Linked DNA regions of Homo sapiens. The protein of the gene in region 1 interacts with the protein of each later gene in a biochemical or structural test. Each region holds a gene or a part of one and is shown on either strand. Other genes may lie near its edges.

Evidence for each region.
Region 2: the proteins of FRMPD1 (region 1) and TBC1D10A interact in a test that uses a peptide from one of them, tested with the Homo sapiens proteins (one large-scale study listed by IntAct).

What each region holds. Positions count from the first base shown.
Region 1 is NC_000009.12:37,730,220-37,734,471, forward strand, and holds part of FRMPD1 (FERM and PDZ domain-containing protein 1), read left to right. Parts: intron 1-764; coding exon 765-884; intron 885-2,084; coding exon 2,085-2,221; intron 2,222-3,253; coding exon 3,254-3,380; intron 3,381-3,510; coding exon 3,511-3,606; intron 3,607-4,252. UniProt on the Homo sapiens protein: Stabilizes membrane-bound GPSM1, and thereby promotes its interaction with GNAI1.
Region 2 is NC_000022.11:30,319,513-30,323,941, reverse strand, and holds part of TBC1D10A (TBC1 domain family member 10A), read left to right. Parts: intron 1-4,429.

The sequences.
Region 1 (4,252 bases):
TTGCTGTGTCTAAGCCCTTCTTGTGGGACTTACCCCCGATATGGTTCCTGATGGCAGAATAGGGTAAACACAGCCAAACGGTCTATATCACTCAATCTCCCAACCATTCAATAATATGTTGTACCAACTTTTTAAAGCTAAACACAGGTTAGTTCAACAAATCTTTGTGAGTCTGTTACAAAGATGAGGAGGATTTTAACAGTTGGAAATGAGTAATACATAACCTCATAAAAGCCACCCTGAACATTCCTCTTTGCAGATGAATTCTTACCCAATGCACTCACCGATTAGAAGGTTTACTGCTTGCAGACTTTTTAATTACTTCTATTCCATTTGCATTGGGAAAGAAAATCACATTAAATCCCTAAGATAGTTTAAGTGAAATAAAGTAAGTTGTAGAATGGTATGTATACTATATTATTATTTGTGGAAGATAAAAGAATAGACTTATACTGAAGCATGAATATACATAAACTGTCTCTGGAAGGGGCACACAAGAAACTGAAAACAGGAGTTTCCTCTGGAAAGGGAAACTGGAAGATAGGTGAGTGGGAAATGCTGCCCTTTTGAACCTTTTACATTTTGTACCCAGGAAAAAGAAAGTCAAATTAGGAGTAAAGGTCTATGGCTGTCTTGGGAAGCACTAGAATTGAAATCTCTGGGAACTGTCTTTCACTGTCTGTGTTTTATAGAGTGGTTTTGTGGAATGACTGCAAGGACAAAGGCAGTTAGGAGATTAATAGTATCTCCCTTACCCATCGCAGGTGGTAGAAAGGGAGGAGTCACATGACTACCGCTGCCTCTTCAGGGTCTGTTTTGTTCCCAAGGACCCCCTGGACCTCCTGAAAGAAGACCCCGTGGCCTTTGAATACCTCTATCTGCAGGTGACTGGGTCTGTGCTTCCTAAAATAACAGTGGTTGTTCTCAAAGATGGTGCACTGGGTGATTTTGAACGTGAGCTCGAGGCCATTAAACAACTCCCTGGTAGGGATTCTCTTTATCTGAAGGAGAATGGGCCTGATCATCGCTCAGAATTCCCTTTTCCATCACTGAGTTGCTGTTTTAGCAGGTGTGCGATATCAGAATGAAATTCAGGCTCAGTCCTCAATGTAGATGATACATTTTCTAATACCATTTTAGGATCTTTAGAATTACAGTTTTTATTGCCAAAAGGGGCCTTAGTGCTTTAAAACCTCGTTTTAGAATGATGACACTGAGTCTTGGAAAGGTCGTGTGATTTGCCTGGGTCACTCACTTAGTGGCAGAGCCAAAACCTGGTTCTTGATCCGTGGCCTGGTGCTCCCCCTATTCTACCTCCTTAGATGAGAGTTATGATGCCATTTTTATTCTGATGAAAAATAATCATTTGGAGCCGGGTGCGGTAGCTCACGCCTGTAATGTCAGCATTTTAGGAGGCCGAGGCAGGTGGACCACTTGAGGTCAGGAGTTTGAGAACAGCTTGGCCAACATGGTGAAACCCCGTCTCTACCAAAAATACAAAAAATTAGCCAGCCGTGGTGGCACACACCTACAGTTCCAGCTGCTTGAGAGGCTGTGGCAGGAGAATCACTTGAACCTTGGAGGTGGTGTTTGCATTGAGCCAAGATCATGCCACTGCACTCCAGCCTGGGTGACAGAGCGGGATTCTGTCTCCAGAAAAGAAAAAAAAAAAGAAAAAGAATCATTTGGCAGATATCACCATTTTACAGATGAGATAACTCAGACTAGGTGGATTGGACTGCCCCAAGTCTTACAGAAATGGTGGCAGAAAATAATAATAATAGCAATAACAACGCCATCAATACTTTATATTTGTATAACACTGTGTGCCTTATACCTGCTTTCATATGCATTATCTAATTTAAGTCTCACAGAAACCACATAAGGTAGATTTTACTATCCTCATTTACCAGACACCAAATGCTTGGAGAGTCTTGGTAACTTAACCAAGGTCACACAGCCAAGAACTGTCAGAGCCAGCTCTCAAAGCGGAGCTCCTGGTCCTGCTGCCTTTCACCCGAGAGAACGAGGGGACACAGTATGTCTGCTTTTGTTTCCCATCTGCTCTATTTAATCTCTTCTAGAGCTGCAGCGATGTGCTCCAGGAGCGCTTTGCTGTAGAAATGAAATGTAGCTCTGCACTCCGACTCGCGGCTCTGCACATCCAGGAACGGATCTACGCCTGTGCCCAGCCACAGAAGATCTCTTTAAAGTATATAGAGTGAGTGGCAGGGGATGGCAGCTGCATTGCATTTATAACTTGCTGGCCCCTGGCCAGGAGGGCCAGATGCCACAGAAAGCTGATAGTCACCCACCTACCCATCTGTCTGTTGTCTTTCCATCCATTTCCCTCTGCACCCTCTCTAATCTGACCTGGCTCCCCCAGATGTCTGAACCTGGCTGCTCTCTCTGGGACAGAAGCCAACTCCAGATGGAATGTCACAGGATTCCCTTGTAAATTGCCTGTTCCTGGGAAGATGTCTTGGGAAATCAGTTGCCAGCATCAGTGTTAAGCTTTTCTAGGGGTGGGAATGCCTTGGAAGTTAATTTTTCCCGTGGATATGAACCAGTTCCTATTGCATTATGTCTCCACTAGAGCAGTTTCAAGTCCTACGATTCCAGCACCTTCTGATTCTTAGCTTAGAATTGTTCTGGACAGCATCACTCAGGTTTGCTAAGCCCCTCCCCAGATCTCAGCTCTGTCCTGCCTGAGCATCAGAATCAGATGGGGAATCATATTTTTAAAAATACAGCATATCCTTGGCCCTACCCCTGATGTACTAAGTCCAATCTCTCGCAGCAGGGCCTGAGAATCTGTAGTTTTAGCAATTTTCTGGGGGATTTTGAAGCTGCTAGGCTGGCACCATGCTGAAGCTTAGCCTAGGGGATTCACAGGAGCTCTGCGTTGCCCCATGAGAGTGTCTTGTACTCTCTTGTATGCTGTCATTATTTGCCATGTATTTTGTAGTGAAAAAGATTCAGAACTCCTGCTCTGACTGATAGATGGTCACACCACACCAAGAGTAATGAGCTCCCAGAATGATCAATGGGGTTTAGTTCCTGAATGCCTGTGGGGATTTTTGTGGAGAGTGTGTGTATGTGTGTGTGAGAAAGAAAAAGAGAGGAGGAGAAAGTGGCTCGTAATTGCTGTATTATGGGAACACTAAGTACTGAATCAAATGTAATTATGCTCTTCATTAGAGCCAAGTACCCTGTAGAAATGGGCCTCCTTGTCTCCAATGTCTCATGGCAGGAAAGACTGGGGAATAGAGAACTTTATATCTCCAACTTTACTCCGAAACATGAAAGGCAAAGACATCAAGAAAGCCATTAGCTTCCACATGAAGAGGAACCAGAATTTGCTGGAACCCCGACAGAAGGTAATGAAGGTGCCTCTGCCGACCCACTCAGCTGTCGTCTGTGAAACCTTAGGAAAAACATTTTCAACACTGCCTGGATTTTAGACCAATGAATAACTCTGACTTCAAGTGTTTTTTTTTCTCTATTAAGCAACTTATTTCTGCTGCCCAGCTACGTTTAAATTATCTACAGATCCTCGGAGAACTCAAGACATATGGTGGAAGAATCTTTAATGCTACTTTAATGGTATGTATTAGAGAACTGTGAAATCCTACTCACGTAAGGGACCTTAGAGATCCTCTGAAAATCAATGTGTCTTTTAGCCTAAAATTCCTGAGGACTCTGTCATGTACTAGAATTTGTCTGGTAAACTAAATAGTACACCACTGGAAAATATTTACCACGCGTTTGCTTGGTGCTACCCCTGTGATAGATGCTAGGGGAAGCAGGGCTGAATAAGATGTGATTTCCGTCCTTGAAGGATGAAACAAGCTACCCAACAAAATGAAGCAAAGCCATGAGACAGGTTCAGGCCTATTGCTGTGGAGTTTGGAGACAGAAGGTAGCACTGCTTGCTTCAGGGTAAGTATAGGGAGGAGAAGGGGTTAAGGAAAGAGGCAAGAGGAAGCCTGAATTTGGCCAGACTTCAGTAGAGAGGAAAAGGCATTCTGGGTCAGAAGGGGATGGTAAGCAGTTCACTCTGGAGCTTTGGGTATATGAAGGTGAAGAGGAAAATTGGAAATCATGAAAGAAAAATAAGAGTGTTTGACTGCCAAGCTGAGTCTCTGATTGTTCAGAAGGGAGGAATGAGGGGTGGGCCTGAGAAGAGAAACGAGAAGCAGAAAAGCCCTCTGCTCTCTTCCCATTCTCCTGCCTGCTTCTTTTTGGAGCC
Region 2 (4,429 bases), on another chromosome or scaffold:
TGGAGTGCAGTGGCGCAGTCTCAACTCACTGCAACATCTGCCTCCCGGGTTCAAGTGATTCTCCTGTCTCAGCCTCCTGAGTAGCTGGGAGGCAGAGATTGCACCCATCACCACACCTGGCTAATTTTTCATATTTTTAGTAGAGATGGAGTTTCACCATGTTGGCCAGGCTGGTCTTGAACTCCTGACCTCAGGCGATCCACCTGCCTCAGCCTCCCGAAGTGCTGGGTTTACAGGCATGAGCCACCATGCCTGGCCTGTAAGGGATCTTAATAGATTGACCAGCTCAGCCCTTACTTACATAGATGAGGAAACTGAGGCCCAGAGAGAAGAGTAACTTTCTTAAGATCACAGCATATTAGTGGCAGAACTAGGACTTGGACTTAGGGTTTCTGACTCCCAGGTCAGTACAGTTTCCACTGCCTTCACCATCCATAAATATGGCCTTTCGTCCCTGCAGGATATCAGGTGTCAGACAGGTAGAACAGAAGTGTCTTAGCAGTCACCTGCCTGCTCTTACCTTCCCTGACTTAGCTCAGCACTTTCGACTCTCTCAGCAGTATATGAGGCTAATAGAAGTGGCCCAGAAGGATAAGAATATGTTGTCATTACCAGTTCATTAGACTGATTAGCTTCAGGACTGGGAAGAGGCTCATTCACCTTTTTCTCCTCAGGCCTGCGGTGGAGTAATTAATACTTATTTGCGGGGAGACATTTCAAGTCAGGAAGCTGAAAGTGGCAGGGCATGGTGGCTCACGCCTATAATCCCAGCACTTTGGGAGGCTGAGGCAGGTGGATTCCTTGAGTTCAGGAATTCGAGACCAGCCTGGGCAACATGGTGAAACTCCATCTCTACAAGAAAATACAAAAAATTAGCTGGGCATTGTGGTGGGCACCTGTAATCCCAGCTACTTGGGAGGCTGAGAGGTGGGAGGATCTCTTGAGCCCAGGAGGTGGAGGTTGCAGTAAGCCAAGATGGTGCCACTGTGCTCCACCCAGCTCTTTCTTGAGACAGAACATGACCCTGTCTCAAAAAAAAAAAAAAAAGACTAGGTGCTGTGCCTCACGCCTGTAATTCCAGCACTTTGGGAGGCTGAGGCAGGCGATCGCTTGAGCCCAGGAGTTCAAGACCAGCCTGGCCAACATGGTGAAACCCCATCTCTACAAAAAATACAAAAATTAGTTGGGTGTGGTGTCATGCACCTATAGTCCTAGCCACTTGGGAGGCTGAGGTAGGAAGACTGCTTGAGCCCAGGGAGGTGGAGGTTACCGTGAGCTGAAATCACGCCACTACACTCCAGCCTGGGAGACCTTGCCTAAAAAAAAAAAAAAAAAAAAAAAAAAAAAAGCTGAAAGTGACCTTAGAGATGGCCATCAGCATACAGATGGATAAACTGGAGGCCTGTGAGAAACCTGGAATTCCTGATTCCCAGTCCTAGGCCTTTCCATTTCTTCACCTTGTCTGTCTTTTGAGCCTACTCCGCAGGGAACCTTTAGTGAGACTGAGATGGTCCCTGTCTGTTTTTGAGTAGTAGCCACAGACAAGAAAGCAGCTTGCCAGTAAATGATCCTGTGGGTGGCATAGGCATAGATCAGAGTGCCGACAGCATTAGTTCTTCTGGCTTGGCTGGAGACCGAGTGGGGCATTGAAGCCCAGGAAGGGCCGGGTGCAGTGGTTCACCGCCGTAATCCCAGCACTTTAGGAGGCCGAGGTGGGCAGATCATTTGAGGTCAGGAGTTTGAGACCAGCCTGGCCAACATGGTGAAACCCCGTCTCTACTAAAAATACAAAAATTAGCCAGGCGGTAGTGGCTCACGCCCATAATCCCAGCTGCTCAGGAGGCTGAGACAGGAGAATCGCTTGAGCTTGGGAGGCGGAGGTTGTAATGAGTTGAGGTCATGCCACTGTACTCCAGTCTGGGTGAGACAGACCGTGTCTCAAAGAAAAAAAAAAAAAAAAAGGCCCAGGACCAGTTGAGGAAAAAGATGTTTTCAGCAGGGAAGGGTGGGAGGAGTGATGATACCCCTCCTGTCACTTTGGAGCAGGAAGAACAGACTTGTTTGGTGTCCCTTCTGTAGCATAGAGGAAGTGGTTGGGAAGGGAAAGAAGGATACAAGTTTTATACCAGGTCTCCTGGCCCGAGGGAGGTGACCTGAGAGAGGTGGTCCCTGACCTTCTTCTCCTTTTCCTATGTGATTGTCAGGTCTGGCCTCCTGAGGCTGAGAGCTTCCCATCCAGCCTCAGTCCGCCCAGTCTGCAGGCCAAATGAGGTGAGGAGCTATGCTCTTTGGGATCCCATGGGTGTTGGCTTCCTGTTATGGGAGCAAGGGATCTGAGCTGGGCCCAGGGAGAAACATCTGGAATAGCAGTATTGCCTTCTTTAGTTCTCATTCCCTGGGCCTTTCATTACTAGCCAACTTTGGAAATCATAGAACTGGCTTAATTGGCATCCCTATAGTTTATTGTGTGCCAGTTTTTATTGGAGTGGGGTCAGGGCCCTCCTGGCAGGCCAGATTCTGACTCCTTGCCTTATTCTCTAGTTAGTAAACTCAGAGCATCTACTTTTCTTGAGCTGTTACAGATCCCAGGAGAGCATGGAGCTGGCATTGGGGTGGTCCCTGGGTGGCCCATCTGGAAGGAGGCATTTGTACATATGGGGCCCTGGGCTGTGACTCTAGACTGCAGGCCCTCCCATTTTCTCTCATTTTTCCCTTCTTAGCCTCGAAGGAATATCCGGTTTGGTGGCCCTGTGAGTGTTAGGTCCTCAGACAAGACCTGACTTGGTAAAGGAGGGAGCCGGCACACCAGCTGCTACCCTGGGAAGGTGCCTGAGTGTCCGCCTGCTGGGAAACTCTAAGCTGTGGGAAAGAGATAAGATGGTAGCACCTACTTGATGTTTTGTCCTACCAGCATCTGGGCCTGAAACAGGACCTCCCAAGGGGCAGTGAGGCCTGGCTGTGGCCCAGCCACCCAATCTGTTTATATCGAGGTGGGCAAGAGAAGGTACTGTGTGCTCCCTCCTCACACAAGCGCCAGAATCTGGCTGGCTGTGTGATCTTGGACATGTTGCTTCACTTCTCTGAGCCTCAGTTTCTCACCTGCAGAATGGTTATGATAACACTGACTTTGCAGGATCATTCTGAGGTTTAAATGAACTAATAATACAGGGTAGGTGCTCAGTGAATGTTCTTCTCCCTCTTAAAGACTGGAGCAGCTCGTGGTTCTATCTTTTCATTTTCTACTTCCCATCTTTGGCTATAATGATGAGTGTCAGTGAGGCCCAGCCCCTGTCGGCAGGAATGAACCCTAACCCATGGTGAATCCTTACTTCCCCTGAGAGGGGTGATTATCCCCATTCTGTGGATGAGCGTACTGAAGACCGAGGAAAAAGTGCCCAAGGTTTGCCAGCTGGTAAATGGCAGAACTGGGACTAGAACCTGTTTCTTGACACTGCATCCAGTAGTGACTACACCTTGCTAAGGTGGCAGCAGGCAGGGTGCCAGGTGCTTACTGTCCCTAAGTCCCTAAGGTCCCTGAGGTCCCCACACCCAGGGCAGGAGTTAGCAGGAATCTGGCTACCTCCCCCTTCCAGTATGGAGGGCAGAGCAGGTCTCAGTACAGGGAAAGGTCATGGCCATCAAGCAGGAGAAAGGCACAGGGAGGAAAATCCTTGGAGAGGTCCTGGAAGCATGGCCAGATCAGGCCTGATTTAGTCCTCCCATAGGCCAGAGTCCGGATTGCATTGGTCTTGACCCCAACATGCTGCATAATGGCCATTTGACTTTGATATCTAGTCTGTGCCTTTTGGAAGAAGTGTTACTTTGTAGATGAGGCAGGGATTATGTTGCTTGTACCGGTGAGGAATCTGAAGGTTGGAGAACTCTTGCTGTTAGTGAACTGTGGAGCCAGACCGGAGAGGGATCCCAGGTCCTCCGACTGTCACCCAGTGCTCCTCTAGCTACATAGCACTGACCATTCTCTTCCCCTTTCTCTTCCTCAGTCGAGGTAATTGAGCCTACAGGCTCAGGATGCATTGCCGACTAGAGCAGAGCCCTGCCATCATCCATCCGTTGTCCTAGCTGATCACTTTATCCTGCAGACAGTACACTTGAGGGGTAGGAGGCCTCCTTTAACTGATTAGTCTGCCCCTGGTAAATCTATTGCCGCAATCCTGGGCCCAGAGACCCTCTCCAGCAGGGAGAACACTGTACTGGCCACCCCACTGGCAAGTCAATGCTCCTGATACTTAACCAGCTTAGAAGCCCCCACCTAGGATTTCAGGGCAGCTGCCAACTTTGGCTTTCTCTGTCTCATCCTTCCATTTCCCGTCTCTCCTCCCCCTACCCTACCCTACTCCATTCTGTGCCCTGTCCAGGTCTTCAGAGGCTGCCATAGCTTAGCACTCAACACCTCTTCAGGTAGAGAAAT